Linked DNA regions of Homo sapiens: region 1 is linked to region 2. The links come from fine-mapping of genetic effects on gene expression. Tissue or cell type: whole blood. Region 2 holds a variant in brackets; the other region holds the start of a gene. All regions are shown on one strand. Distances are between the middles of the regions. Region 1 holds the start of CMTM7 (CKLF like MARVEL transmembrane domain containing 7). Region 2 overlaps CMTM7 (CKLF like MARVEL transmembrane domain containing 7).

The links.
Region 1: it holds the start of CMTM7, and the variant in region 2 is fine-mapped to the expression of CMTM7 in whole blood (TOPMed, PIP above 0.99).

What each region holds. Positions count from the first base shown.
Region 1 is chr3:32,384,133-32,399,972 of GRCh38, reverse strand. It overlaps CMTM7 (CKLF like MARVEL transmembrane domain containing 7), which reads right to left and starts at 8,120. Exons shown (of 5, transcript NM_138410.4): 1 at 7,908-8,120. The coding sequence starts at 8,066.
Region 2 is chr3:32,408,549-32,422,461 of GRCh38, reverse strand. All of the region lies in intron 1 of CMTM7 (CKLF like MARVEL transmembrane domain containing 7), which reads right to left. Among named protein-coding and RNA genes, the nearest start is that of CMTM7, 24 kb to the right of the region's middle. RefSeq lists enhancers at 2,032-2,111, 2,202-2,271, 2,332-2,391, 1,623-2,822. The variant T/C (reference allele first, on the strand shown) is at 4,841.

The sequences.
Region 1 (15,840 bases), 23 kb after region 2:
TTTAATCTTGGGGAAGAGGGAGTGGGTGAGTCTATTTTCTTCTTGTGCTCCCCAAAGTTTCCACAATGAACAAGTATTACTTTTGTTAGGAATAAAGCCAATAACTTATTTTATTATATTTTATTTTTGCATTTGTTTGGTCACTGACAGTAGTTTCTTGTCAGGAATGGGCTGAGGTCAAAGAATCTTGGCAGTGAGGTTCTTTGCTGCTTTTTACTCTCCAACTTCCAGGAAGTAGGACATGGGTGTGCAGACTGCACTTGGGAACCAAACTAGACCCCCTCCTCGCCCTCCGCCATACACATCTAAAGCAGAACATAAAGGGATGGGCCCTTCTGGATGATGCTGGGCTATTCTGTGCTAACAGGTCTATTCACAGCTAGACCAGAGGCTGACATCCCCCACAGCTGAATTCCACTTGGCACCTAACCTGTGAATTCTCAAAGTGAAGCCTGGAATTGCCCAGGCCTCTTAGAGGGTCTCCAGGACCCGCTCTCCTGCCAAGAAACCTTAGTGTACTCCCCCCAGCACCCAGTCTGGGAAGGCTCCTTCAATCTTATTTCAGACAAAACATCCTTTTAGGATATAAAGTATTTTGCACTGTCAAAATTGCACTGTCAAAATTCCAGTTTGCATTACTATTCTGAAATGAATAAGATGTATATGTAATATAACCCTAATCCCTGTGACAACCAAAAAAAAAAAAAAACAAAAGGTTCCATAAAATTCCAAAATAACCCCTAGGGGGCGGTACAGCCCCTAGTTAAGAGTCACCTCATGAATGGTGAGTTGATATGATGCTTTGCTGATTTTTCTTAGACTAAGGACTATATATTCACCAAGATTTGGCAGACCCTGGAGTCTGGTCCCTGCATACCTCCAGTCTCATCCCCAATACTCCCACCCTGTTCTCTCCCCTCCAGCCCTAGAGATACTCCTCCCTCCACTAACAGCCAGGGTCCGTGCTCTTTCTTTTCTTTTTGGGGGGATGGGAGGACAGGGTCTTGTTCTGTCACCTAGGCTGTATGGAGTGCCGTGGCGATCACCACTCACTGCAGCCTAGACCTCCAAGAGATCCTCCCATCTCAACCTCCCGAGTAGCTGGGACTACAGGCACGTGCTACCACACCCATCTAATTTTTGTATTTTTTTGTAGAGACCGGGTTTCACCATGTTGCCCAGGATGGTCTCAAACTCCTGGGCTCAAGCCATCCGCCCGCCTCGGCCTCCCAAACTGCTGAGATTACAGGCATGAGCCACTGCGCCGGCCAACGCTCTTTCTTCTGCTTGTGATGCAATTTCCTCATGCTCACATCAGATGTCCCTTCCTCAGAAACACCCTTCCTAATCCCCAAAAGGTCACACTCCCTAGTATATGCTCTATACCACTGAGTACTTCTCCTTCATAATTTCGAACCTGTTTGTAATTACATATTCATAACCATTTTGATTAATGTTTATTTTCTCTATTTGAGTATAAAGAGGCAGGGGCTCATCTGTCTTCTTTCCACAGTTCCCTAGCACACAGTCGTGATCACCTACTAGTTAGCTGATCACAGTAGGTGATCAACAAATATTTGCCAAATAAATAAATGAACCTCCCAGAAGATATTTAGATTTCCATCATTGCCGCTTGTGAAATACATTCTGATTCTCTGTCCATGTTATGGTTATGTAAACGTCACAGTCTGTTTTTCTGCACAGGCAGAAAGAGTCTATCCTGTTAATAGCTGTATTTCACATAGCGTAAGATTAACAGCATAGCAGATGCTCAGTGGATAAGATGGCACCCATTTCTAAATGTCTGGGGTGGGAAGATTAAGATAATTACCCCAATTCTGGCTCATTTCTTGCTACATCTTTTTCCTTCCCAACCCTAACATACCACTTATCTCTAACTTAAACATATATTGAATAAAGGCACCAAAGGGGTAAATGAGCCACTCCCAACCTGAAAACTTACACTCATCTGTCAAGATGCAATTTAAATATCACCTTTGCCCTCTGATCCTCTTCCATAAGGTGGGCAACTATCAGAACGTTTACCTTCCTGAGCAGCCAATTTTGGTACTTGTTCATCCCCTCAGCTTGTCAGAGGCATCCTAACCAGAGTGACTCCATCTTGAATAAAGGCCGAGAGAAAGCCAAATCTGCTGGATTACATTCCCAGGGGGTTGGGCAGTCTTGGTCACATGATGTTTATGGTTGAGGGAATGAGTTAATAATTTTTTTTTTTTTTTGAGACAGAGTCTCACTTTGTTGCCAGGCTGGAGTGCAATGCTGCGATCTCGGCTCACCGCAACCTCTGCCTCCCGGGTTCAAGAGATTCCCCTGCCTCAGCCTCCCGAGTAGCTGGGACTACAGGCGTGTGCCACCACGCCTGGCTAATATTTTGTATTTTTAGTAGAGATGGGGTTTCACCATGTTAGCCAGGATGGTCTCGATCTCCTGACCTCGTGATCCGCCCACCTCAGCCTCCCAAAGTGCTGGGATTACAGGCGTGAGCCACCACACCCGGCCCGAGTTAATAATATTAACTAACTAAATAAAGACCCAGAACTTACGGAAATGTCCCAGTTCTTCAAGAAGAAAAAGTATTCTTAGTTTAAGAATAGGTTCTGCTTTTAAAATAATGGTACACTCATAAGTTCTTGCTAAAATCAATAATCACATAGGAAAGTAACAATATTAATAGCTTGTCACAAGCTGATCGCAAGCTTTTGTAATAAAGTACACTATTTTTAATAACCTATATAAGCAAGCATTGTATTTGCAATGGGTGCGTTCCTCCTCTTGCTTTCTGAAGAGTCTCTACTCTGTAATTGAGTGGCGTCTAGTAAACTACTTTGACTTCACTATACTCTACAACTTGCCCTGAAGTTTTTTCTGCACGAGATCCAAGAACTGTCTCTTGGGGTCTGGGACAAGACCCCTCTTCCCATGACAAGCTGAACCACAGATTACTTGAGGGCAAGAACTTTGTCACAGTCATCTGATTCTGCACAAATGGAGATGAATGTGGCAGTTATAAATGTCTGCTGAATGAACAAATAGATAGGACGTGTTGGTAGGGCCACAAGCCCCATCCTGGGGTCTCCTTAATCCCACAGCAAGGATATCTAGACCCCTTCAGACCCCAGGGCATCCCTTTCAGCTCAGACCCTTCAGGCACTCAGGGGATGCCTTTCAGCCCAGCTTTTGTGACTCCTGCAGGGGACACTCCTTCTTCTAGGAGTGGATGTGGTGGGAACACCACAGGGATTTCCTGAAGTGTAGCTGTAGCCTCCCCACACCCAGTGGCTGCATGCAGAGCACCTTGCCCCCTCACACTCATCCACAGGTCTACTTACATAATTACATACCAACCAGTTACTTATTTAAAGTATAAATCTCGGTGGTTTTTAATATATTCACAGAGTTGTGCAACATCACCATCACCAATTTTGTTGTTGTTGTTGTTGTTTTTGTGACGGAGTCTCGCTGTGTCACCCAGGTTAGAGTACAGTCACGCAATCTCAGCTCACTGCAACCTCTGCCTCCTGGATTCAAGCAATTCTCCTGCCTCAGCTTCCCCAGTAGCTGGGATTACAGGCACCTGCCACCACATCCAGCTAATTTTTGTATTTTTTAGTAGAGACAGGGCTTCACCATATTGGCCAGGCTGGTCTCGAACTCCTGACCTCAGGTGATCCACCCACCTCAGCCTCCCAAAGTGCTGGGATTACAGGCATGACCCACCGCACCTGGCACCATCACCAATTTTTTGAACATTTTCATCACCCCCTAAAGAAACCCCATACCCCTTACAGCAGTCACGTCCCATTTCCTTTCAACCCCTGCTCCCTGACCTAGGCAACCACTAATCTATTTTTGTGTCTACGCATTTGCCTATTCTGGACATTTCATATAAATGGAATCATATAATGTGGTCTTTTGTGGTTGGCTTTTTTTCACAGCTTAGTGTTTTCATGGTTATCTATATGGTTACACGCATCAGTACTTCATTCTCCCTTTTTATGACTGAATAATATTCAATTGTATGAATGTAGCACTTAGTTTTAGTTGCTGTTTATACATTCATCATTTGATGGGCAACTGTGTTGTTTTCATTTTCTGGTTATTATGAATAATGCTGTTATGAACACATATGAATGTGTAAGTCTTCATGTGGACATCTGTTTTCATTTTCTTGGGTAGAGCTGGGAGTAGAATTGCTGGGTCACATGGTAACTTTTGAGAAACTGCACAGTTTCCCAAAGTGGCTGTACCATTTTGCATTCTCATCAGCACTGTATCAGAGTTCCAATTTCTTCACATCCTCCACATCTTCATCACTTGTTGTTTTCTATTGTTGTCATCTCCGTGGGTGTGAAGTGTTATCTCACTGTGGCTTTTATATCCCTAGAACTATTAACAAGCAACAACTCTGCCAGAGTTATGAGTTTTGGAGATCAGGCCATTAGGCCTGGATCGGTTCCACCACTACTGCTAAGAGCTGTGTGACTTTAGTGTCTCTTTAACTCTTTAGCCCGTTTCCTTATCTATCAAACATGTTACTTCACTGGATTCTTAGAAACATTTAATGAGATTATACACACATGGTATATAGTATGTAATTACTAGAACAATAATAGGGCTAAAAAAAAATAGCTATTAAAAAAAAGAGTCTCATGCAGGCGCAGTGGCTCACCTGTAATCCCAGCACTTGGGGAGGCCGAGGTGGACAGATCCCTTGAATCTCTAAGTTCAAGACCAGTCTGGGCAACATAGCAAAACCCCGTCTGTATCAAAAAATACAAAATTTAGCTGGGCATCGTGGTGGGTGCCTATAGTCCCAGCTACTCGGGAGGCTGAGGTGGGACAATCGCCGAGCCCAGGAGGTTAAGGCTGCAGTAAGCCATGATAACACCACTGTCCTCCAGCCTGGGTGACAGAGCAAGACCCTCTCTGTCTCGCTCAAAAAAAAAAAAGTCATTTAGCCGAGCGCGGCAGCTCACACCTGTAATACCAGCGCTTTGGGAGGCAGAGGCGGGGGCGGATCATGAGGTCAAGAGATCAAGACCATCCTGGCCAACATGGTGAAACCCCATCTCTACTAAAAATACAAAAATTAGCTGGGTGTGGTGGCACGTGCCTGTAGTCCCAGCTACTCGTGAGGCTGAGACAGGAGATTTGATTGAACTCGGGAGGCAGAGGTTGCAGTGAGCTGAGATCGTTCCACTGCACTCCAGCCTGGTGACAGAGCAAGACTCCCTCTCAAGAAAGAAAGAAAAAAAAGAGTGCTTTAAAGTCAAAAGTCAAAACCTGTGACTGTGTCTCTACTCCAAAAAGGAAGACCAAAGAAACTGAATTATCATGGCCAGAGGATTATAAAAATTACACATGTATAAATGACATGTCAAGTACACACATTCACTCAGAAACTCATTTTCTAGTAATGGTGGACCCAGAAGAGGCCAAGACAAGGGAAGTCATTCTCCAGTGGAACAGCCTTTGCAATGATTTCTTAAGACAACGTGTTGGCAGATCTATTGATCAGATCATGATGAAAACATTTCATGAGAAGCTGAGGACAAAAGGGTCAACCTGTTCAGTATGAAACTGAGAAACTGATGGTCAAAATGAGAGACCCATAGAAAGAAAGCCCCAATGGGTGGCATTAATTTAGCTGCTTCTGCCCTTCCCCAATGTTAAAACTTGGCTAAACAAGCATTTTCCAGCAAAGAAGACAAATGAACCTCAAATGCCCAAGCAGAGTCTTAGAAAAGAGGAGAAGTGGGAAAATAGGGAGGAGTTAGATAAGAGGCCCAAGTAGATAGCCCTAACTAGGACTAATACAGCCATCCTGCAAGGGCAACTTTGCTCCCAGAGGGTCTGATCAAACAAGCCTGCAGCAGTGATGGGGAATCCTCCAGGGCAGGTGTAAGACTCCTCAGCATGGTTTTAAGAGGAGCACATAGAGAATAAGCAACCAGATAAAGAAATTATTCAAGTCTTTGTTCTCTTTTTTGGAACAACAGGCCCCACTCTTGCCACTTGCAAATTGGCCCAAGGACCACAGGCCAGAGGCTAGCTGAGGAGCTTAAGATGAGATGGAGATTTCTCATCTCCCAGTATCTTTATTCATCAAAATCATGGACCACATGAAGGCTTCTCATCTCCATTACCTTTTCTTTGTACCTTTTTTTTTTTTTTTTTTTGAGACAGGCCTCCCTCCGTCACGCAGACTAGTGCAGTGGCACAGTTCACTGACCTTCTCAGTTCAATCAATCCTCTCACCTCAGCCTCCCAAGTAACTGGGACTAGAGGCCCATGCCAACCACACAAGGTTTTAAAATTTTTTTTGTAGAGATGGGGTCTCGCTATGTTGCCGAGGTTTCATCTCCATTATGTTTGTGTACCAAACTCATAGACCAACAAGAAGACTTTTCATCCCACAATATCTTTGTCCAGCAAACTCAGGGGCCAAGATGGAGGCTTCTGATCCCATTCTCTGTCTACCAAACTCATCCCTTCCAATGCTCAGGTAGGATATGTCTCACCCCAGCCCATCTTTTAAGGATGGTGAGATGGGCTGGTCTCTTCTATTTGGCTGATCAAATCTCTTAGCCTGGGCCAAAAAATGCCCTGCTCAAACCCAACAATGCTCAGCACCAGATTTTTTTGTACGTTGCTGAAATGGCTCTTCCTAGTTTTTGGTCTATCTAGACACCGTTCTTAGGGAGGCAGGAACTCAGCGCCCCTTCTCTTTAGGTCTGGCCCAAGCAAGACATGAGGGCCACCTCATGCACACTCAGTGTCTGGAATGGCAGTGCTATAGATGCACAGACGTCCTGTGCCCAACCCCCTGGGGCCAGGCCACCTTAGCAGGCCCCAGCTTCTGGGTGTGTGACCTTGTCCAGCCCCACACTCCTTTCCCCACACCTCTTTTTGAAACTTACCGCTCCCCTCCCCACCGTTCTTGGTGCAAACATTACAATGGTGGAGACTCACAAACAGCCCAACCCAGTTTCAAAACACATCATACAAACGGAAAAGTTGTTTCAGATTACAAACTTTTAAAGAAGAAAAAAACGGGAGGGGAGAAAAGAAAAGAGTGGGGAACAAGAGAATCGGCCAGGCAACGTCTGCCCTGGTAGGAGGCCCTTGTGCTGAGTTGGTCACAATCCAAGCCCAGACACTCATCCTGCCTGGCTCCACGGGTGACTCCCATTCAACAGTCTGGCTCCCCTACATGAGTACCAGCCCCTGACAACAGGCCTTTCCCAACTGACCCCCTGCCCTCCAGAGCCCCCTGAGACCCGGGCCCTCCCTCGGAACTTGAGGGCGCAGGGGACCAGGACGGCCGTCTCAACGGTCCCAGTTCTTTTTCCCCACTATGGAACACAAGACCCTCTGACCTCCTCCTTCGAGCGAAACTGCACACAGAGCAGGGAAGCCCTGCCGCGCTGGGTTCGGAGGAAAGAGGAGGCCGTGGACGGGGAAGAGGTCGGGTTTCGCTCCCTCAGCGCCGCCGCCTGGGCGACTCTTCCACCCCCGGCTCGGGTTCGAAGCGGCGCGGCCCAGAGAAGAGGAAGAAAGACGAAAAGGAACTTTGCCCGTGGTTTCAGTCAGTAGGCGGGTCAGGCTTCGCAGGGGGGTGGCCGGAGAAACTTGCGACCCTGGCGACCTGGGTCCGCGGGAGCAAGGGCCGGGGCGGCTCTGGGGACTGAGCTCCAGCGCGGGGGCTGCGGCAGCAACTTTCCCGGAGGAAGCCTGCCGCGAACTTTAGCGACGCGGTGCCCCGCCCGCTGCGCGATGCTCCCTGGGCTCCGGCCGGGTCCAGACGCCCGGCGCGTCCGCTCCCGGACCCCTGCTTTCCCGGGACGCCCTGTAGAACCTCGGCCTCGCGCCCCGCGCTCACTTACCATTTGCGCCACTTTCAGCAGGGCCGCGTGGGTGCGGGGGTAGCTGAGGTCCAGCAGCCCCTCCAAGGGGCTCGCGCTGGGCTGGGCCGCGCCGGCCCCGGGTCCGAGCGCGCTGCCGCTGCTGCACGTGGTGCGGACGAGCCCGGCTCCGTGCGACATTGCGCGGCCCCAGCTCGCTGGCCGCCTCCCCGGGCAGCTGCCCAGGGGCCAGATACAGAGGGCGGGCCGGGGGCGGGCGGGGGCGGGCGCTGGCGAGGGCGGGGCGCCCGGGTCCCTGCCCCGCTGCTGGAGACGCGGAGCCGCCTCTGGCGGGATCCCTCCGGTGACTGGCCGGCCGGCGCCTTCCAGAAAGGTAGCGGCAGTCCCGGCCCTCGTAGATGCGCGGAAGTTAGACTGGAGCGAGAGGAAACCGGATGCCTTGGGTCGTGGCCTCTCCGAGGTGGGCAAGGCCCGGACCACAGCTGGTACTGAGCCTCCTGGGATTTTGTGTGGGTGCGGCTGCGGATGTGTGCTGAGAGCACTTTACTGAAGTTTAACTTACATAAAGTGTGATGCCCAGACCTTACGTGTTCAGCTCCACTAATTTTTATATATGTGTACACCTGTGTAACCGTCGCCCAGATCAACAAATAGAACGTGCCCATCACCCCAGAAAGTTCCGTGGTGGGCCTTCCTGACCTACCTTCCTTCCCTGGCCCCATCCTTATCCAGCCTCAGGCAACCACTACAGTGTATTCTGCTTTCTGTCACTGTAGGTTCATTTTGCCTGTTCTTGGACTTCATAAACTTGAAGTAATACAGAATATTCTCCTTCAACATAACAAATTAGAAGATCCATCCTGTTGGGAATATAAGTAGTTCATATCAGTTCCTTCCTTTTTATTGCTGAGTAGTACTCCACTGTGCAAAGATACCGTATTTTTTAAACGTTTACCCAGTTGATGGACACCAAGCTTGCTTCCTTCCTACCTGCTTGCCTGCCTCCTTCCCTCCTTCCGGCCTTTCCCCCCTCCCTCATCTCTTTTCTGGCTATAGTCACTATTATGGTACACGTTTTTTTGGTGGATACAAACTCTCATTTCTCTGGGACAAATATCTGCAAGTGAACGCACTGGTTACAAGGGGAGCATATGTTTGCTTCTGTTAGAAGCTGTCAGCCTGGGGAACATGGCCAGACCTCATTTCTACAAAAAACAAAAAATAAAAATAAATTAGCTGGGCCGGGCGCGGTGGCTCACGCCTGTAATTCCAGCACTTTGGGAGGCCGAGGCGGGCGGATCACGAGGTCAGGAGATCGAGACCATTCTGGCTAACACGGTGAAACCCCGTCTCTACTAAAAATACAAAAAATTAGCTGGGCGTGGTGGCGGGCGCCTGCAGTCACAGCTACTCGGGATGCTGAGAATGGCGTGAACCCGGGAGGCGGAGCTTGCAGTGAGCAGAGCTTGCGCCACTGCATTCGAGCCTGGGCGACAGAGCGAGACTCTGTCTCAAAATAAAAATAAAAATAAAAATAAATAAATAAATAAATTAGCTGGGTGCAGTGGCACATGCCTGTTCAGGAGGCTGAGTCTGGAGGAGCCTTGGAGCCCAGGAGGTTGAGGCTGCAGTGAGCCATGACAGTGGCATTGCACTCCAGCCTGGGCCACAGAGCAAGACCTTGTCTCAATTAAAAAAAAAAAAAAAGACAAGAAAAAGAAAAAGCTGTCAAACAGCTATCCAAGTGACATTCTATTCTGTATCCCTTTTGGGTTGTTTTAAAAATGAAGAGGCCAGGCGTGGTGGCTCACACCTATAATCCCAGCACTTTGGGAAGTCAAGGCATGAAGATCCCTGGAGGCCAGGAGTCCGAGATTGCAGTGAGCTATGATCTTGCCACCGCACTCTTGTCTGGGTGACAGAGTGAGACACTGTCTCTTAAAAAAAGAAAAAGAAAAAGAAAAGGAAAAAAACATAAAAATGAAGACAGGCCCAAACGGGACTACCAAAACGAGGTATGTTATCATGTTCCTTTTGAGCAGTGTCCCTGTGGCCATACTTACATTTATTCATTTGGAGATAACATCAAAAAATCTGGCTGGGCACGGTGGCTCATGTCTGTAATCCCAAAATCAAGCTCACAAGCCCAAGTTTGACACCAGCAAGGGCAACATGGAGAAACCCCATCTCTACAAAAAAATACAAAAATTAACTGGGCATGGTGGCACATGCCTGTAGTCCCAGCTACTCAGGAGGCTGAGGTGGGAGGATTGCTTGAGCCCGGGAGGTTGAAGCTGCAGTGAGTCATGATTACAACACTGTACTCCAGGCTGGGTGACAGAGCAAGACCCTGCCTCAAGAACAAAACAAAGCAAAGTGAAACATAAAACTATCTTTGTGAGTTTATTCCCTGCCAGTGCTGTCTTGTCATCAGAAGAGTTTTCGATGTGGCAAAGTCCTAATAATTCTTGTTGGTGGATGATACCCATGCAATATCTGTTTTGGCAAGTCTCTTAGGTGATTCTGATGCACACTCAAATTTGAGAACCACTGTCATTGCCAGAGTCCACTGCAGTTGAAACATTTGGGGATTTATTACACTATTTATTTCACCTTTATGTACATTTGACAATTTTCATGACCAAGAAAAATTGCCTTCCACGTGTGTCTTCTCTGTAGACAACAGTCACAGCTGCCTGGTACCTCCATTTGTTTCTCTGTAATTCAGGAATAATTGCATCTAGGGGCTGCTGTGACAATGTGATAGATATGCAGGTGTGCTGTGACATTTCTGGCTCTATACCCACAGGCATGAAGTTAGTACTGTGTATCATTTTTTTATGTAGATGTACATTTCACTTCTGTACTTGTCTAAGGCTTCAGGACCCACAGTGGAGATAACAGGGCATCTTTGTTGAGATGAGGGTTTCAGGGAAGCAGAAAAACCAAGTGCTGGATCATTTCTCCTTTGAGGGGCCTTTGTCCAATTCAGCAGTCTTCTAACAGTGATTTTCAGTGTATAGCCCCCCAACCAGCAGTACCTGCGAACTTGTGAGAAATGCAGATTCTAGGGGCCCACTCTGACCTGCTGAATCAGAAACTCTAGGGGTAGGGCTCAGCAGTGTGTGTCTTAACAAGTCTTCCCAACCCCACCCTCACTCCCCACCCCCCTTCACCATCATTCTGTGATTCTGATGCATACTCAAGTTTGAGAACAACTATCTCTTCCTGAGTCTGCTCAGAAACATTGCTGGGCTTTTCTGCCTGGTGTTGACTAATGCACCACCCACCTCTAATCAGAAGTAATCACTGTGCTGGGCACTCTGTGTTAATCACTTTATTATGATCACTTAAGAGCTTGAGCAAGATGCTTGCCAGTGCAAGGGCCATTGCTGGCCTGACTTACAAGAAGAGGCTTCAGAGGCTTGCCAAGTGCACTGAGATGTCTACACTAGTGTGTTGTCTGCTAGATGTGAATAGCTGCCCCTTGGGAAAGCAAGGTCTTAGGCAAAGGGCTTCATAGCCCACTTTAAAGATGTCACACTCTAAGAGGGAACCAACCAGGTAGGTGACCTCTGAATACCTGGTGAGAAATCAAGATGTCCAAGTTCTCCTTTTCTCTACACCGAGGGATTGCAGGTGGCTTATTGACAGTTTAAAGCTTCAATTCGAGTGGTACTCTGACTATAACTCTTCTTCACCAGTGTGTTTATGATGTTATATCTGATCAGATATAATGAAAAAAGTAATAAAATTAGAGTTGACTCTGTATTAGTCACAGTGCTTTTGATGAGACAAACTAAAATCAAGCAAAAAGAAGAGTTCATTCAAGCTGGGAGCAGTGGTGCATGCCTGTAGTCCCAGCTACTCAGGAGACTGGGGTAGGAAGATTTCTTGAGCCCTGAAGTTCCAGGCCAGCCTGGGCAACATAGCAAGACCCTGTCTTTAAAAACAAAACAAAACAAAAAACAAAATAGGCTTGGCACGGTGGCTCATGCCTATAATCCCAATATTTTGGAAGGCCGAGGCAGGAGGATCATTTGAGGCCAGGATTTTGTGACCAGCCTGGGCAGCATAGTGAGACCCCCATCTCTACAAAAAATGAAAAAATTGGCCAGATGTGTAGTCCAAGCAACTTAAGAAGCTGAGCGGGGGGAAGATCACTTGAGCCCAAGAGTTCAATGTTACAGTGAGCCATAATCGTGCCACTACACTCCAGCCTGGGCAACAGAGTGAGACCTTGTCTCAAAAACAAACAAACAAACTAATAAAAAGCAAAACAAAATAATTCATTGGCTTGAGTAACTGTGATATGCAGAGGTATACACCCACTTCAGGCATGGCTGGATCCAGGTGCTCCTCAGGCACAGTCAGGACCTCCATCTCCTGGCTTCACTCTGCTCTGTGTTGGCTTTTCAGGCAGGCCCTCTCATGAGCTCTGACAGCTCAGGCTTACACAATAATCCTGCCTTCGTTATTTCAGCCTGTCTTTTCCAGTGGCTCTGGTACTGTCTTAGGCTGCCATAACAAAATATCACATACTGGGTGGCTTCTCAACAAGAATTCACTTCTCACAATTCTGGAGACTAGAAGTTCAAAATCCAGTTGCCATCAGGGCTGGTTTCTGGTGAGGCCTCTCTTCATGACTTTAGATGGCCACCTTCTTGCTGTGTCCACACATGGCCTTTTCTCTGTGTACATGGAAAGAGAGAGAGAGATCTCTGGTGTCTCTTCCTAAAGGGACACCAGTCCTATTGGATTCTGGCCCCACTCTTATGACCTCATTTAACCATATTATCTCCCCAAAGAGTCCATCTCCAAATACAGTCACACTTGGGGGTAAGGCTGCCACCTATGTATTTGGGGCAGGGAGGACACACAATTCAGTCCATAATAGGCACTATCTCTCATTAGTCCAAATATGGGTCATGGTTCCATCTTTCAACGAATTACTATGGCCAGAGGAGTGGAACATTTTTGGTGGCCAGGTCAAGTTCTACCTACCCATGAAGCTGGGGGTGGGATAGGTTCAGCCCAGTAGAACCACAGGAGCTGAGTGAGGAAGGGGTGGTTCCCAAAAGGAAAACCAGGGTGCGAGTATCAGAAAGCGGAGTGAATATTAGGCAGTGTTATGCACTGAATGTTTGTGTCCCCCCATCATTTAAAAGTTGAAGACTTAACGCCCAATGTGATGACATTTGGAGATGGGGCCTGTGGGCAATAGTTAGACTTAGGTGAGATCATGAGGGTGGGGCCCTCAGGGGGGGATTGGTGTCCTTATAAAAAAGACACCAGAGAACCTGCTGGCATTCTCTCCACCATGTGAGAATACAACGAGAAGGTAGCTTTCTGCAAGCTAGGAAGAGAGCCCTCAACAGGAACCAAATCGATCAGCACCTTGATCTTGTACTCCCCAGACTCTAGAACTCTGAGAAAATAAATTTCTGGTGTTTAAGCCACCTGGCCATGGCATTTTGTTAGGAAGTCTGAGCTATGCCAGGCAGACAAAGGCATCAGGTGTCCATGAAACTCTTCCAATATCAGCCTTTAAAATCCTTTTCCAGTGAATTTCTTTATTTGTTTGTTTATTTATTTATTTATTTATTTATTTATTTATTTATTTTTGAGATGGAGTCTCACTCTGTCGCCCAAGCTGGAGTGCAGTGGCGCGATCTCGCCTCACTGCAAGCTCCGCCTCCTGGGTTCATGCCATTCTCCTGCCTCAGCCTCCTGAGTAGCTGGGACTACAGGCACCCGACACCATGCCCAGCTAATTTTTTGAATTTTTAGTAGAGACGGGGTTTCACCGTGTTAGCCAGGATGGTCTCAATCTCCTGACCTTGTGATCCGTCCGCCTCGGCCTCCCAAAGTGCTGGGATTACAGGTGTGAGCCACCGCGCCTGGCCTCCAGTGAATTTTTAAAAAGTTTATTAGGTTCCGTAAACCAGTCAAACTCTCAGGTCCTTCTGAGAATCACCAATCAGCTGCCTTATATCCATTGGAAATTTATTGCATCAGGCTGGCTCCTGAGCCAAGGGCAGCCCATCAGTGGGTTGGCCAGTAGTGTTTGGAGTGGCCTTATAAGGGAACTTTGCCTAGTAAGAGTGGGAGCTCCACTGATGATCCTCTGTCCTGCGGAGTTTGAATGTGAGGCATTGAGAGGGGTTTAGCAATTGGGACATAGAGAGAAGGTGGAAGCCAGGAGGCTGGTTGGGCCATGAGAGGAAATAAGGAGAGGCAGAGCAGAAGAGAGTGGCTGAGGCCCAGCAGAGGGAGAGCGGCATGTACTCACCACAGCGGGGCCAGCCAGGATACCTGGTCTTTAGCGCCAGGTGGGACCCTGAAACCTTTGTCTTTGTGCTGCCTGGCTGTGTGGCTGAGAGGCAGGACTCTGGAACCAAACTGCCTGGGTTTGGCCCTTAGTTCCATCACTTGCTAGATGTGCAACCTTGGGCAAGCCTCTCTCAGCCTCCATTTCCTTCTCTGTAAAGAGGAACAACAATAGAAATGACCCCTCAGGGTAACTGCGAGATCTAAATGGGATAAGACATATGGAAACGGTCTAGAGTAGCATCTGGCTCATAGTAGTAAATGTTACCTATTTTATCATTTTTCCTAAGTCCTTATGTATCGAACAATGAGGCTTCATTATCTGAGGGCTGAGGGACTCCTGTACGTTGCCATTTCCATAACCATAAGCATCAAAGACCATCTTCAAGGGTGAAATAAAAGATTTCTTGGATTTAGGTAATCCAAGGAATTTTGAGAGCTGCTGGGGAAAAGTTTTACTGAGAGAGGAAGGGAGGAGAGGAGGATTCACCTTGTTATTTGCTCACAACCCTCACTCAGCAAATGTTACGGAGAGCCTTCCACATGCCTGACTGAACACTTCCCAGAAGAGGAACTCCCTCCCCCAGGGAGTTTGTAACCATAGCAACACAGGGAAATAGAGTCAGATAACCGAGGAGGCTGTGGTCGTCATCTCTGTCATCTCTGTTGGGAGGAGTCGAGGTCTGGGTTAGACGGCTCCCTGTTTGTGTCCAGTATTTAGCAGAGTGCCTGGCCCAAAGTAGTACTCAGTTTATATTTGTGGGATTAATGCAGAGCTGTAGCATCCCTGTAAGGGATGGCCCAAAGCTGGGAGTAACCAGCTTGTCTTGAACTGGGAGGAGAAAGTTTCAAAAAAGAATATGTGCTTGGAACTAGGTCTTGAAGGGCGATTAAAAATTTATGGGGTGGGCAAAAGAGGGAATGACATATGTCAAGAAAGGAGGCATGAAACCGCACCACGGATTCCAGGAATTCCCAGTCCTTTGGCGTGGCTGGAGTGTGGGGACTTGGGGAAAAGGGCTGGGGACCTTGGCTGGAGAGATACCACAGGACTGTGGATGCCCACCTTAGGATTTGTGCTTTATGTAGACAATGAACACTGTGAGGATCAAAGGGGTTAAGATATGTCAAATGCTGAGAACTGTTGCTGACAGTAAGATGATGAGTATGATGATGATAATGAGATCTCTTTTTTATCTTTCCTTAGCCCATGCTGTCATTTGCAATCACCTGTGAAACCTATGAAAACTATACCTGCCCAGGCTCAGCCTTGGAGATTCTGATTCAGTGTGCTCAGGCGGGGCTGGACATCCATGTTTGGGAAGAGTTGCGCGGGTGATTTCGATGCGTATATGACCCTGGTTGAAAACTGCTAACCTGGCAAATGCCCGCCAGTCTCACAAAGTCCAGCCAAAATGTTACGGCCTCTGAGAAGCCTTCTGTGAGTGATGAGCAATCCCCATGGCAATATTTATTGAGCACTGACAAAGTGCCAGGACCTGTGTCAGGCACAGGAGTACATGTTCTTTGCCCAGACTGAGAAAACAGGCAATATGTATGAAAAATGCTAATGATAGAATAAAAGTGGGGTACTATGGGAGCCCATGGGGAGATACCTTACCCT
Region 2 (13,913 bases):
CAGAAGAAATAGTTCTGCTGCTGAGTACTTTTGCCACTATCCTGGGGAAATAAATATTTGGAGAAGCTGTGGGGCCAGTCCCAGCAGGAGGCCTGGCACCCAGCCCTGGGCCCGTGCCAGAAGTGAGTGCCTGTTGAGTTTCACAATGTGGGTGTAGGCCGCCTTGATTAAAACCCCAGGCAGCACAATGCCAAATAAGTGCCAGCCTGGGGAAGAAGAAATTAGTCTGGGATAAAAAACGACAAAACAAGAATAGAAAAGCCATTAAGGGATTTGTAAGCATGTGTCACGGATGAAAAATCACTATTGTTGAGAACGTGTGATCATCACGTTGTGCCCTGTGGGGCCTGGGGAAGGAAGTATGAGTGTTAGCCAAAGGCTTGCCTTCCATCAGAGGAAGGAAGGCCAAACAGGAGCAATAAAGCATGGCTAGCAACCCCCACAGGTCAGACAGTCACTCAACACAGACAGTAGGGGCTAGTTCACCCCGTTGGGCCTCAGTTTCCTCATCTTTGGCATGAGGGATAATAATCAAATATACTACAAAGAGTTAATGAGTTAATACAAGGATTAAATGAACTAATTCAGGCAAAATATTTAGAACAGCCTGGTACTGCTCCAGTAAATGCTCAACAAATGTTAGGTATTAAAACTTCTTTCAGAAGTTTCTTGGGAGGAACAAATAGGATAATGTTTGAGGTCTTGGCACAAAGTAGCACAAAAATGATGATTCCTCTAAGTGCAGTGTGTTGTCACCAGGAGATGAGCAAGATATGAGGACAGCTTAGACACGGACCCTGTCCTAAAGGGTAAGGAGCTTAAGATCCAGACACAAGTAACGACAACAAAACAGGGGATAAATACCACCAGAGAGCTACAATTTGTGAGGAATAGAGGAAGGAGAAGGTCAGGCATGTCCCGTATGAAGAGCAGACATGGCCCTGGTGTGGACTCCACAAAAGCATTCCAACACACAGAGAAGGGGAATCAGAGGCTTCTGGCAGTGGGAACACAGCCACAGAAGGCATAGGGGTGGGAAAGCACAAGAGTATATTTGGGAACAAGAGGGTTGTTGTCCATGTTAGGCAAACTGCACAGGTATGTGAAGAGGTGTGATGGGAAGCAAAGCTGGCGGGATGGGGTGGGGATCAGATTCCAGGCTGAGGAAGTAGATATGCTAGGTGGGCGATGGGGAGCCAGTGAAGGTTATTGAGCAGAGAAGAGCCACAGCAGAATTGTTCTTCAGGAAAATGAATCTAGTAGCAGGTGGACTGGAGATGGGAGAGAAAAGACACAGAAGTCAGTTTGTAGGAGGCTGTGTCAGTTCTAGCAAGGCAATGGGGACTGAAATCAGAATAGTGGCCAGAAGAAAAGGGAGAGGAGCTGGGTGGGAGAGGAGGGCAGCAGGTGGCAGGAATGTCCCAGGGAGCCTCCAGGGACCCAGGCTGCACGGTGAGGTGGGGAGCAGGGTCGCCTCCAGTGGGAGGGTCCAGACAGCCGGTGAGACCAACAAAAAAACTTCCCTGGCTGGCTTGGCTGCCTCAGATTGTTGACAACATGGTCAAGCGATTCCGTCTGTGCAAACTCTGCCATAAACTAAACCGCTGAGTCAAGCAAGCAGGCAGCAGGCCTTGCCACTTCTGCAGGCCATTAGCTGGCCCCCTCTCCTGCCCCCAGACCCAGTTCTGAGGAACAACTCCCCAGAGAGGGCCTCTCCCACCTGCTCTCTGGCCGCTGCATTTTTTAGGGAACAAAAAGCCAGCTGTGGTAAACCGCCCTTCAGTCAGGCAGACAGTGGGACTATGGCGTGGACACCTTGCCCCTTTCTTCCTCCTCCAGCCTTTTCAACCGTGTCCCCAGTTCAAAGGCATGATCATTGTGACCTGCAGGCCCAGGTACAGCTGAAGTCATTTCAGAAGGCTGGCGTAGAGTCAGCCCTCCCCTGCTGCCTGCATTCTCCTTTGCTTTCTCACTTTTGAGTCATCTGAGTGCCAAGTGAAAACAAAGACCTCCCTTCAGAAAGTTCCCCACCTCATTGGGCTTCACTTTTTAAAAATAACCTGTTAGGCTGGAACCTGGCCACTCCCTACATTTCCCCTCACCCGGCCTGCGGGGTCATTCTCAGGCCTCCTTGCCACTGCAAAAGCCTCCTGGTGGAAAGACAAAGAAGGCCTTTCAGTCCCCATGAAGCAGGCTCTGCTTCTGCCCTGATCTGGATGCATCTGGAGGAAACAGGGAGGCCACAAAGAGACATGGACGAAAGGTTCATCCTCAACAATACCTCCTCTCATGTGCCTGCTAATGGAGAACTAGACTGCTCAGATAAACACAAATAAACTGTTCTTCTAAGGTGACAACAGGGACCCAGCACTTGGTAGGACCTCAATAATGTGACGCAAATCAATTTGAATCTAGCTACTGGACTCAAATACTTCTTCCTACATCCTGTTCCTGAATTGAGCTGCATAACTTCAAGTTTTTCTAACATGTAGGCAAAAAGGAGAAACAGATAAACCCAAAAGAACACCAACCACACAGAGAGGAAAGAGAGACCAGGATTCAGAATAACCCACACTAGACCATGAATACATGAATATCTCAAAAGGAAGGACGCAAAGTGGGTTGAGTCATTAACAAGCTTACAGAGAAACTCCAGGCTATCAAAAACCCTCCATAAAATATTAGCATATCATATCCAACATATATAAGAAATACAAATGTACCACAGCTAAGGTTTATCACAGGAATGCATGAGTAGTTCAGTACTTCCAAATGTTTCAAATGTATATGCCTTATGAACAGACAAAACAAGAAAAGCCATATATTCGTATCAACTGAGACAGAAAAAGCGGCATTTGACAAAATTCAATATCCAGTCATGATTAAACAAAACAAAACAAAACTTTCAGCAAGCAAGGATAGGAGGGAACTTCCTTGACTGAGAAAGGGCATCTAAAAACCAACCCACAGCTAACATGATACTTGATGAGATACTGCATGCTTTCCCCCAACACAGGGAACAAGGAAAAGATGTCTTTTCTCACATTCTTATACTGCTGGAAGTTGCAATAAGGTAAGAAAAAGAAATAGAGGCATATGGATTGAAAAGGAAGAAACAAAACTACTTCATTGGTAGACAACATAATGATCTATGTAGAAAATCCCAAAGAATCTACTAAAAACCTCCTTAGAACTAATAAATAACTTTAGTAATGTCATGAGATACAAAACCAATTTACAAAAATCAACTGCATTTCAATATCTTAGCAATGAACAACTGAAGTTAAAAATTAAACACAAAGGAGAGGACTATTTACAATAGCAGCAAAAAGGGAAATATTTATTAGGTATAAATCTAACTTTACAATATGGTGAAAATGATAGAACACTGGTGAAAGAAATCAAAGACCTAAATAATTGGAAGGGCTCACCGTGTTCATAGATATTATTAATTCATGATATTATTAATGAGCCAATTCTCCCCAAATGGATATGCAGGTTCAACACAATTTCAATCAAATCCCAGTGATAGGCTTTATTACTGTTATTTTTGTAATATTGGAAAACTGATTCTAAAATTCATATGAAAAGGGCAAGGAATGAGAATAACCAAAAACAACTTTGCAAAAGAGCACTATCCAATTTCAAGATTTACTATTAAGTTACAGTAATCAAGACAGTGTGGTACTGGTGAAAGCTTAGACAAATAGACGAATGCAGCAAAACAGAGTCCAGAAATAGACCCATATGAATATAATCAGCTGGTCTTTTGAGAGAAGTGTAAAGTAATTCAGTGGAGAAAGGATATCCTTGTCAACAAGTAGTGCTAGAAAAACTTGATATCCATATATAAAACAACGACCCCTGGCCCATACTTAACCCTTATGCAAAAATTAATTCAAAACGGATCACAGACCTAAAATATAAAACTGTAAAACGTCTGGAAGAAAACGTAGGAGAAAATCTTTGTGACTTGGATTAGGAAAAGAGTTTTTAGATAAGATACTGAAAACACAATCCATAAGGAAAAAAAACTGATAAATTAGACTTTATCAGAGTTAACTTTTGCCCTGCTCTTTCGAGAGACTAAGAGAAAGAAAAGGCAAGATATAGAGCAGTGGAAACATTTTGTAAATCCCATTTCTGACAAAGAACTTTATCCAGAATATACGAACAATACTCAAAACCTAAAAATAAAAAACCAACAAGCCTATTTTTAAAAATGGGCAAAAAATGTGAATAGATACTTCACCAAAGAGGCTATGTGGATGGCAAATAAGCACATGAAAAGATGTTCAACATTATAGTCTTTAGGGAAATGGAAATTAAAACCACAATAAGGACAGGCGCGGTGGCTCGCAACTGTAATCCCAGCACTTTGGGAGGCTGACGCAGGTGGAGCTCTTAAGCCCAGGAGTTCGAGACCAGCCTTAGCAACACAGGGAAACCTGGTCTCTACAAAAAATACAAAAATTAGCTAGGTGTGGTGTTACACGCCTATAGTCCCAGCTATTCAGGAGGCTGAGATGGGAGGATTGCTTGAACCCAGAAGGTGGAGGTTGCAGTGAGCTGAGATCATGCTACTGCACTTCAGCCTGGACACCAGGTGAGAACCTGTCTAAAATAAATAAACAAACAAAAAAAAAACCAAAAACAAACCACAGTAAGATATCATTACCTACCTATTTGGATAGCTAAAATTAAGCAAAACCCAAACTAGAAAATACTGATAATATCAAATGCTGGCAAGTGTGGTAAACAACAAGAACTCTCATACACTGCTGTGGGAATGCAAAATGGTATAGCCACTGTAAAAAACAACTTTGCAGTTTCTTATACA[T/C]TTGAATATATACTTAACGTACGACCCAACAAAACTACAGATAGGTATTTACTTAAGAAAAATGGAAACTTACATTTATACACCCAAGAAAAACCTGTAAATGAATGTTTATAGCAACTTCATTCATAATCGCCAAAATCTGGAAACAGATGTCCTTCAACTGGTGAACACACACATATCCATATCATGGAACACTACTCAGTAATAGAAAGAATATTTTTATTATCCAAGTGATAACATGGATTAATTTAAACCCCTTTTCCTAAGTGAAAGAAGCCACTCCCAAAGCTACATGTTATATTATTCCATTTATACGACATTCTGGAAACAGTAAAACTATAGGGATGGAAGACAGATCAATGGTTGCCAGGAGTTACAAGGTGGGGAAAGGATTGACTATGAAGGGGCAGCATGAGGGAATTTAGGGTGATGGAACTGTTCTGTACACACTGTGGTGACGGATCTATAACTCTATGCATTTGTCAAAACCCACAGAACTGTTCTAAGTGTTCCGAAATTGATTGTGGTGATGACGGTACACACTCTGTGAACAGACTAAAAACTTCTGAATTGTCACTTTGAATAGATGATTTCTATAGTATGTGAATTCTATCTCAATAATGCTCTTATTTAAAAAACTTAAAAGAAAAAGACATCTGCTGAGAAACCACACAATGACACTGCTGTGGAATGACAGTTAGATTGTGAAGAAGAGATGAAATTCAGAGGTCCCAGCCCTTAGTACACTTTGTAAAAAGTTCACTTCATTTCCATAGAAATGACTTTCTCTGACTTTCTCTGCCCTGGAATTTCTTAATACCAAAAGAAAAACCTTAAAGCAATACCACAGCCCCCAACACTCACAGTTCATCTACACCAGAGCCCAGGCTTTTTTGAGCTTGCCCAGCAATTCATTCTTAACAAGTACATATGGTTGGGCGTGGTGGCTCACGCCTGTAATCCCAGCACTTTGGGAGGCCGAGGCGGTTGGATCATGAGGTCAGGAGATCAAGACCATCCTGGCTAACAAGGCGAAACCCCGTCTCTACTAAAAATACAAAAAATTAGCCGGGCGCGGTGGCGGGCGCCTGTAGTCCCAGCTACTCGGGAGGCTGAGGCAGGAGAATGGAGTGAACCCGGGAAGCGGAGCTTGCAGTGAGCCGAGATTGCGCCACTGCAGTCAGTCCGCAGTCCGGCCTGGGGGACAGAGCGAGACTCCGTCTCAAAAAAAAAAAAAAAAAAAAAAAAAAAAAAAAAAAATTAGCCCGGATGGTGGCGCACGTCTGTAATCCCAGCTACTCAGGAGGCTGAGGCAGAATTGCTTGAACCTGGGAGGTGGAGGCTGCAGTGAGTCAAGATCGCACCATTGCACTCCAGCCTGGTTTACAAGAGCAAGACTCTGTCTCAAAAACAAAACAAAACACAAAAAAGTACTTATGTGCACATATATATCATAATTAGAACAATGCTGATCTCAAAAACTTTTCCCCTACTTCACAAGAGAAAACTGAGACCAAGAGAAGGGACGTGATTTACCCAAGATTACCTACCCATGTAGTGGGCAGCAGAGCCAAGAGCCAACCCAATAGTCTTTCTTCATCACCTTGATGTCTATGCTAAGTCAAAAACACAGGCCTGGCATGTATGACATGCTCTACAGATGACAGCTAAATACAAAATGAAACGTCTGAGAAACCTTGGACAAAGACCAAGTGGGCTCTCTCCTCATGCAGACACAGACCTGTGCTAATCTAATATTCTTATCAAAGGGACTAGCATAGATTTGCAGAGGCAAGTTGGAGATGTGCAAAGGGAAAAAGGAAATGAAGACCTTGTAGAAAATATTATGAATATGGAATAGCAAGAACAGACCCAGCTAACTTCTGGAGAAAAGATTAAAGATCTCACTAGACTACTGAAAGGAGGTAATAAAAAAATAACTAACATTCACTCAGAGCTTAAATACTTCAGAGAAGATCTGCACAGTAACCCTGAGCAGGTAATATTATCACCCCCATCTCACGGAAGAGGGAACTGAGGCATAGAGAAGGCAGGTGATGTACCCAAGATTTCACTGAGGAGTAGGAATCCAGCAGTTCCACTGCCTCAGTTTCCCTCCCTTATCAGGAGATGAAGAGTAGCATGAAAGAAAGTACTTAATCCCAACGGGAGGGCCTACTGAAAAGGCAGCATGACAGTGGAAGACGACCTGCAGGTGTCACAAAGGTGCTGATGGTCTCAGGTCCCTGCTGGTTTGCTTGACACAAGGCAAGGGAAGTTATGAAGGTGGCCTGTGATCTGTATGGCAGTGAGAAAGTCACTACTTGACATTCTCATCCTTTAGAGAGTGTATCCACAAGGGGATGCGTTAAAATGCAGGTCCCTGGGCCCCTCAGCCAAAGTTTATTATTATTATTATTATTATTTTGAGACAGAGTCTTGCTCTGTCACCCAGGCTGGAGTGCAGTGGCGTGATCTCGTCAGCCAGAGGAGTTTTTAATCCAGTGGGTCTGAGCTGGGGCCCAGGAATCTGCGTTTTGAACAGGTTTACTTCCATCCCCAGCTAAAGTACTTTGGCTGGTCCCTGGGCTAGACTGTGGACAACCTTGGCCTCTACAGAAGAGAGGCAAGACAATACAGATTAAGAGCTTGGCTTTGGAGTCAAACAGTTCTGGGGTCAAATTCCCATTGCCTCTTAGCTGTGTAACCTGGAAAGGCTATGTAACCTCCCAGGGCCTGTTTTCCACCTGGAAAGTGGAGGTGACAAATAGTACCCCACTTAGAGAGCTCTTCCAATACCTGAAAAGCACTACGCACAGTTCCTGGCATGCATCACATGCTCTGCCCACAAGAGCTAAATGCAAAAGTAAAACTCTCACTGGGTCCCTGCAGCACTTCCGTTGTCGTAAAGAATTGGCAGGCTCCATATCATAACATTCTTGGGTTATCATTTCCTCTTCCTTAGCTAAATTTTCTGGAAGGAATCTCTTCCTGTGTATGAATCAGAAACTCAAGAGAAGCCACACTTCCCCAGCATCCCTTTTCCTCCCATGAAGCTTCAATGGTAAAGTTTCTTCACCTCTCCCCTTGCCCCAGGGATGGAGATTGACATTGACTTAGAGTGGACATCTGTTCAGGGGCAGATGGTCTGTGCAATTTGAATATTTATTATCTTGGTAATTTGTACTTCACCTCTTCCTAAAGTAATGAGGCAATAAAAGGAGCCTTAGTAAGAAATGTCAAAGATGAGGGGACGAGCAGAGACTTGCACCAAACAGAAGCTGTGAACGCAGTGCTGAAATACAGCGGTAAAGAAGGTGCAAATTTTCAACGTCAGTGGAACGTGGAGAATGAAAACTGAACCAAGAAAATGTAGCTTGGTCATTTGGTCCTGGGGTGGTGGAATTCCCTGGAAATAGACTCTGAGAAAGAGATTTGCATGCAAAAAGTTAACTGGGGAGTGCTCTCCAAGAGATTACAGTGGGAGAGTAAGCAAGACAGGACCAGGTGGAGGGAGGATTTGAGCAGTCATAACAAAGGCCTTGGCTGATACTCCGAGGAGCACTGAAGCTAGGACCGCTCTTCAGAGTTTTCTCTGTTGAAGCAAGCAGACCAGGCCTTCCTGACTCTCCACTGACCACTGGATACAGGCTGCCCCCAGGGAGAGGTTAGGCATCATCTTGGGTGAGGCGAGTCCCTTTGGTGGACATCAATTTGTGGGGAGGGACTCAGCAGGCCACATTCTTGGAACCTGCGGCGGATGAATGCCTCAGCAATAAAGGGGATATTTGGGCACACACCAGTATGGCCACTGCAACTGTTTAAGTGGGCTCTTTCCCCAAAAAAGTAGTTTAAAAAGAATAGAAAAATCTTGGCCCAAACTTGAATAGCCACATAGGAAAAAAGCTGCCTACTGACCAGGAACCCCCATGCTGGGGTTCCTAAATGGCTGAGGGAGAAAGCTATCGTGTCAAACCAGTAACATTTGAGAGTTATTTGTTACAGCAGCTAGTGTTGCACTAATAAAAAAATCTAAAACTATGAGAAACACTGTGAATGAAAAGAACTGGGTGCTATTAGAGGAGTTATAATGGAGATGAAGATTAGTTACCTCTGAGTACAAATGAAATGGACCAAAGGTGTGTTAATAATATCTTCTAATCACTCTAATCTTATAACAGTTAATAAATGAATGTATCAATGAATCAGCTAATTCATTTGTTCTGATATGTCACTGTCTTTAAGGTCATAATCATGTTACAAATAGAGGTTATTTTGAAATCAACAAACTAAGTTATATATCCTGTGAATAAATATCCATCTCTCAGAATTTATCTTAAGGAAAATAATCTAAGTCAAAAGAAAACTCTACTGCATACCGTAAAACAGCGATTGGCCATTTCTTTTTGGTAAATGACCAAATAGGACATATTTTAGGCTTTGCGGGCCACACAATCTTTATTGCAACTCCACTCTGCAGTGCTAGTGTGAAAGTGACCATATGTAATACATGAATGAATGGGTTTGGCTGTGTTCCAATACAACTTTATTTACAAAAACAGGTGGCAGGCCAGATTTGGTCTGTGGGCTGTAGTTTGCCAACCCCTGAAAATGTTCAATGTAATATCATTTATAGTAGCTAAAAGCTCAAAAGCAAACCTACATGTTTAAAAGTGAGTGGTCACATAAATTTAAAAATATCCACTTAGATGATTGTACATATTATGTGCAATTATGAAGCTTTTATAGCAACAGGGACATTACCAAATATTAAATTTTGTAATAGAAAAATAAGCAACAAAGCAGAATCTATTATTGTCAGTAGGGTAACAGCCCTGCAAACTTTACACATATTCTTAAACAAGGGCCAAAATATAACATTGTAGAAACTGTGGAATGGTGGGCGCATGGGTGAATTTAGTTGTTTCAAATAACTTTCAGATTTAATTATATTAATGTTTCCCTATTCATATTTGTGTAGTAACAAACATCTCAAAAACTTAAAAAAAAACGCTAGGTCTATAAAATCCCTTCAACTTAAGACCCAGATGAAAAAAACTGCTGGAGGAATTAATGATGCAGTGTGTGTGTGTGTGTGTGTGTGTGTGTGTGTGTGTGTGTGTGTGTGTGTGTGTGTGTGTCAGTCTCAATCTGTTGCCCAGGCTGGAGTGCAGTGGCATGATCTCAGCTCGCTGCAACCTCTGCCTCCTGGGTTCAAGCAATTCTCCTGCCTCAGCCTCCCGAGTAGCTGGGACTAGAGGCGTGCGCCACCATACCCGGCTAATATTTTTGCATTTTTGGTAGAGATGGGGTTTCACCATGTTGGCCAGGATGGTCTCAAACTCCTGACCTCAGGTGATCTGTCTGCCTCGGCCTCCCAAAGTGCTGGGATTACAGGTGTGAGCCACCACACCCAGGCTGCAATGAATATTTTAATTTAGGTATATTAACATGCCCACTGCATCATTAATTCCTCCAGCAGCTTCTACGAGACAGTTAGCTATGGTGCGGATGTTGGCAAAGCCCAATGGAACCACTAACATTTTTGTGGCTAACAGATCCTCCATACTTCACCACTACCAAAAAGCCTACTTTATGAACTGACCAAGAAGATTGCAAACCTTGTACTTTTTCTCCCAACTCTGGGACTTTGCAGAGACTGTTCTCTTCTCCAGGACACCCTTCCACCTTTCCCTCCTGCCTTGCCCCTTCCCGTGCATTAGGTCTCAGCCTGGAGCTTCGTTCGAACTCCTGACCTCAAATGATCCGCCTGCCTCGGCCTCCCAAAGTGTTGGGATTAGAGGCGTGAGCCACTGCGCCTGGCCAAGTCGGGGTGTTTCAATGACCACTGGAAAAACAGTTGTGTAGTTATCACTGCCTATGCATGTGGCAAGGTCAGACACACCAGCATCAAAACGTGTGTCATAGGTGCCAGCAGGAGGAAGAAAATCTCAGAGACAAGAGTAGAGCACCTTGACCCCCAGGGTATGGGACTGATGGCGGGGACAGTGACTCAGGGGGTCACTTAGCAACATTCCCAAAGTGGGAGTCAAAAGCCAGTGCACAAACCCAGCACTGATGGCTTTTAGTTTTTGTGTGGATTCTTCTGAGAAATGCTGCATGGCTCACACTCTTGATAGCATAGAGGACAATAGCTTGTGTAGAAATATTCTAAAAATAAAAAGATTTAGAAGAGGAAGGCTCTGACTGTAAAAAAATTTTAGGGATATCTTAACCAATTTATTTTTCTTCACCTATTTTCCTTTTTATATATTCACAAAAATATGTAAAATTTATATTTAATTAAATCTAAAAGAGTTCTTTCAATAAGCATAAGACAAAAATCCTGAACGATAAGAGAGATTTGTGTTACCACATAATTATTATTTTTCTTTGTTTCTTAGGGAGTGCCTAAAACAATGGTGCCTTCGAGGTGATGAAATACCATCCTTGTTTAGGGTCTTGATTTTCAGCGACAGGGAAGCCGGCTCTGCCTCATTCACAGCTGTATCCCCTGCGGCTGACACAGAGCTGGGACAGAGCAGCCATTCAATAAACATCTGATGAAGTGACTTAAGGTAGCGCCTCTGCCAGGCAAAGGGCCACACCAAATGGCTAACACTCGAGTGAGGAAAGGTATCACAAACTGAGCTTGCCACTTCTGGCATTTGATTCTTTTAGCCTTTAATCCAATATAGTAATCCCACTATTCAGTGTTTCCTGGTGTTGCTTTAAATTAGAAACCCTGCCCTGAGAGCTTGATGAGCTGACAGACACTTCTGTCATCCCTCTGCTTGTCTCTGTTTGCTTCTGTTGTTTTGATTGTGAGTCTGTCGAAACCTGTCAACTCAACTAAAGAAAAAAGAAAGGTGCTATCACAACAGGCTAACAGCTACTACGAAAACTGCATCTCTATCGCAAACTGTGGGGGGTGGGAGTGGGCTGCTCCAGGACAGGAATCCTAGCCTCTCTTTGCTAGGCATCCTAGCCTCTCTGTGACTTTTCCCAGCTTCTTGGCCCGCAGGCTTGAAGATATGTGCCCCAGGCCCCATGGCCTGTTCTGGGCCTGGCAGAAGGGCTCTTTCCACTGCTGGGCCCACACCCCAGCCCCCTCCCTCAGCAGGTGTCTGACACAGCATTATTTCCTCTTCTGGAGAAGACCCAAGTCTCTCAAGCACTTCATCCATGCTGACTCTTTGGAAAGGAGTGCTATTACCAAAGGCTTTGTCAAAGAAAATATGCATGTGTTCATTTGAAAAAAGATGATGAGTATTTCCTGTGTTCCAGGCACCACCTTACGAACTGGACACTCCGTGGTGACCTGAACAGAAAGGTGGCTGCCCCTCTGCAGCTCAGGTCTTGGTAGAGAAGATCTACCATAAACAGGTAATTAAGTGAACAAAGGGATTCTGGCTGGCAAAGTGCTGTAATGAAATCAGAACCGGGAAACAGGATAGAGTGATGGTAGCAGGGTGGTGCAGGGGACTACTTTAGCTGAGGGGCTGACGAAGGCCCTCCTAAGGCAGGAGAGGGGGCAGTCCAGAGGGGAAGCAGAGCACCCTAGACCTGGGTTTGTTTTTGTTTCCTCACTATAAAATACGCAAAATAAGAGTACCTAAATGATAGGGCTATTGTGAGGATTAAATGAGGTGATTCACATCAAATTCATACAATAAGACTTGCTAGTTAGCCACTATCCCAAGGAGGTGACATCTGAGCTAAGGCTTTTTAAAAGAACAGGACATCCAGCAAAGCTCAACTTGAACTACTAACTATTAACTTCAGATAAGACATTTGCAAAAGGGACTTTTGTGAAAACAAAAGCATTCAAATTGAGACAAGTTATGCCAAACATGATTTCTTTTCTTTCTTTGTCTTCTGCCTCCAGTGTAGCTACAAAATGCTGAGAATCAGAGGGTCCCACCAAACTGACTTTAATATCCAATGAAGGGACAGCTGTGTCCTGGACTCTCCACAAATGTTGACGTCATGAAGAACAAGAAAGACTGAAAACCTGTTCCAGATTGAAGGAAATTAGAGATGTGACAACTGAATACACCTTATGATCTGGGATGGGATCCTAGACCCAAGGACATTAGTGGGTCAATGGCAAAATCTGAGTAAGGCTTGTAGATAAGTTAATAGCATTTGTATCATTAATTTCCTGATTTAAGTAACTGTACTGCAATTATGTAAGAAAGGGTCTTTCTTCTTACAAAATGCATGCTGAAGCACTCATGGACAAAAGAGCATGATGTCTGCAACTCACTCTCAAATGGTTCCAAGAAAAAAATAATAGCATGCATACAAATGGAAAACGATCAAACAAATGTAAAATGGTAACAAACGGAGAACCTGGGGCAAGGGGATATGGGGAGTTCTTTGTCCTGTTCTTCAAAAGTTTTTGTAAACCTGGGATTATTTATAAATAAAAAGTTACGGCCCAGGCACAGTGGCTCATGCCTGTAATCCCAGCACTTTGGGAGGCCCAGGCGGGCGTATCATGAGGGAAAGAGATGGAGACCATCCTGGTCAACATGGAGAAACCCCGCCTCTATTAAAAATACAAAAAATTAGCTGGGCATGGTGGCGCGTGACTGTAGTCCCAGCTACTCAGGAGGTGAGGCAAGAGAACCGCTTGAACCCGGGAGGTGGAAGTTGCAGTGAGCCAAGATTGCACCACTGCACTCCAGCCTGGCGACAGAGCGAGACTTTGTCTCAAAAAAAAAAAAAGTTACAAAAATATATAATTAAGAGACTTAAAATCATCTGATACTTCTACAAACACTAAAAAGATAGCACCCAATTCACAAGTACTAGATTAAGCAATGCTAATTTGACCACTTTAATACATATGTTTTTGGGCTGCAGTAGCTCATCTTTAAAGATTCTACTAGGATGCAGTAAGATTTATTTGGCATTCTGATGGTTTGGGGGAATCTGGGGATACTTTATTCATCATCTGTGGAAGGCTAGAAGCAATGCTTCTTTGGAACGTCCTTTCCATCTTTTGCCCCCACCCTGCCATCTGAGAACCACTCTCTGATGTTTTCTTCTGTCTTTATTGTTCCGT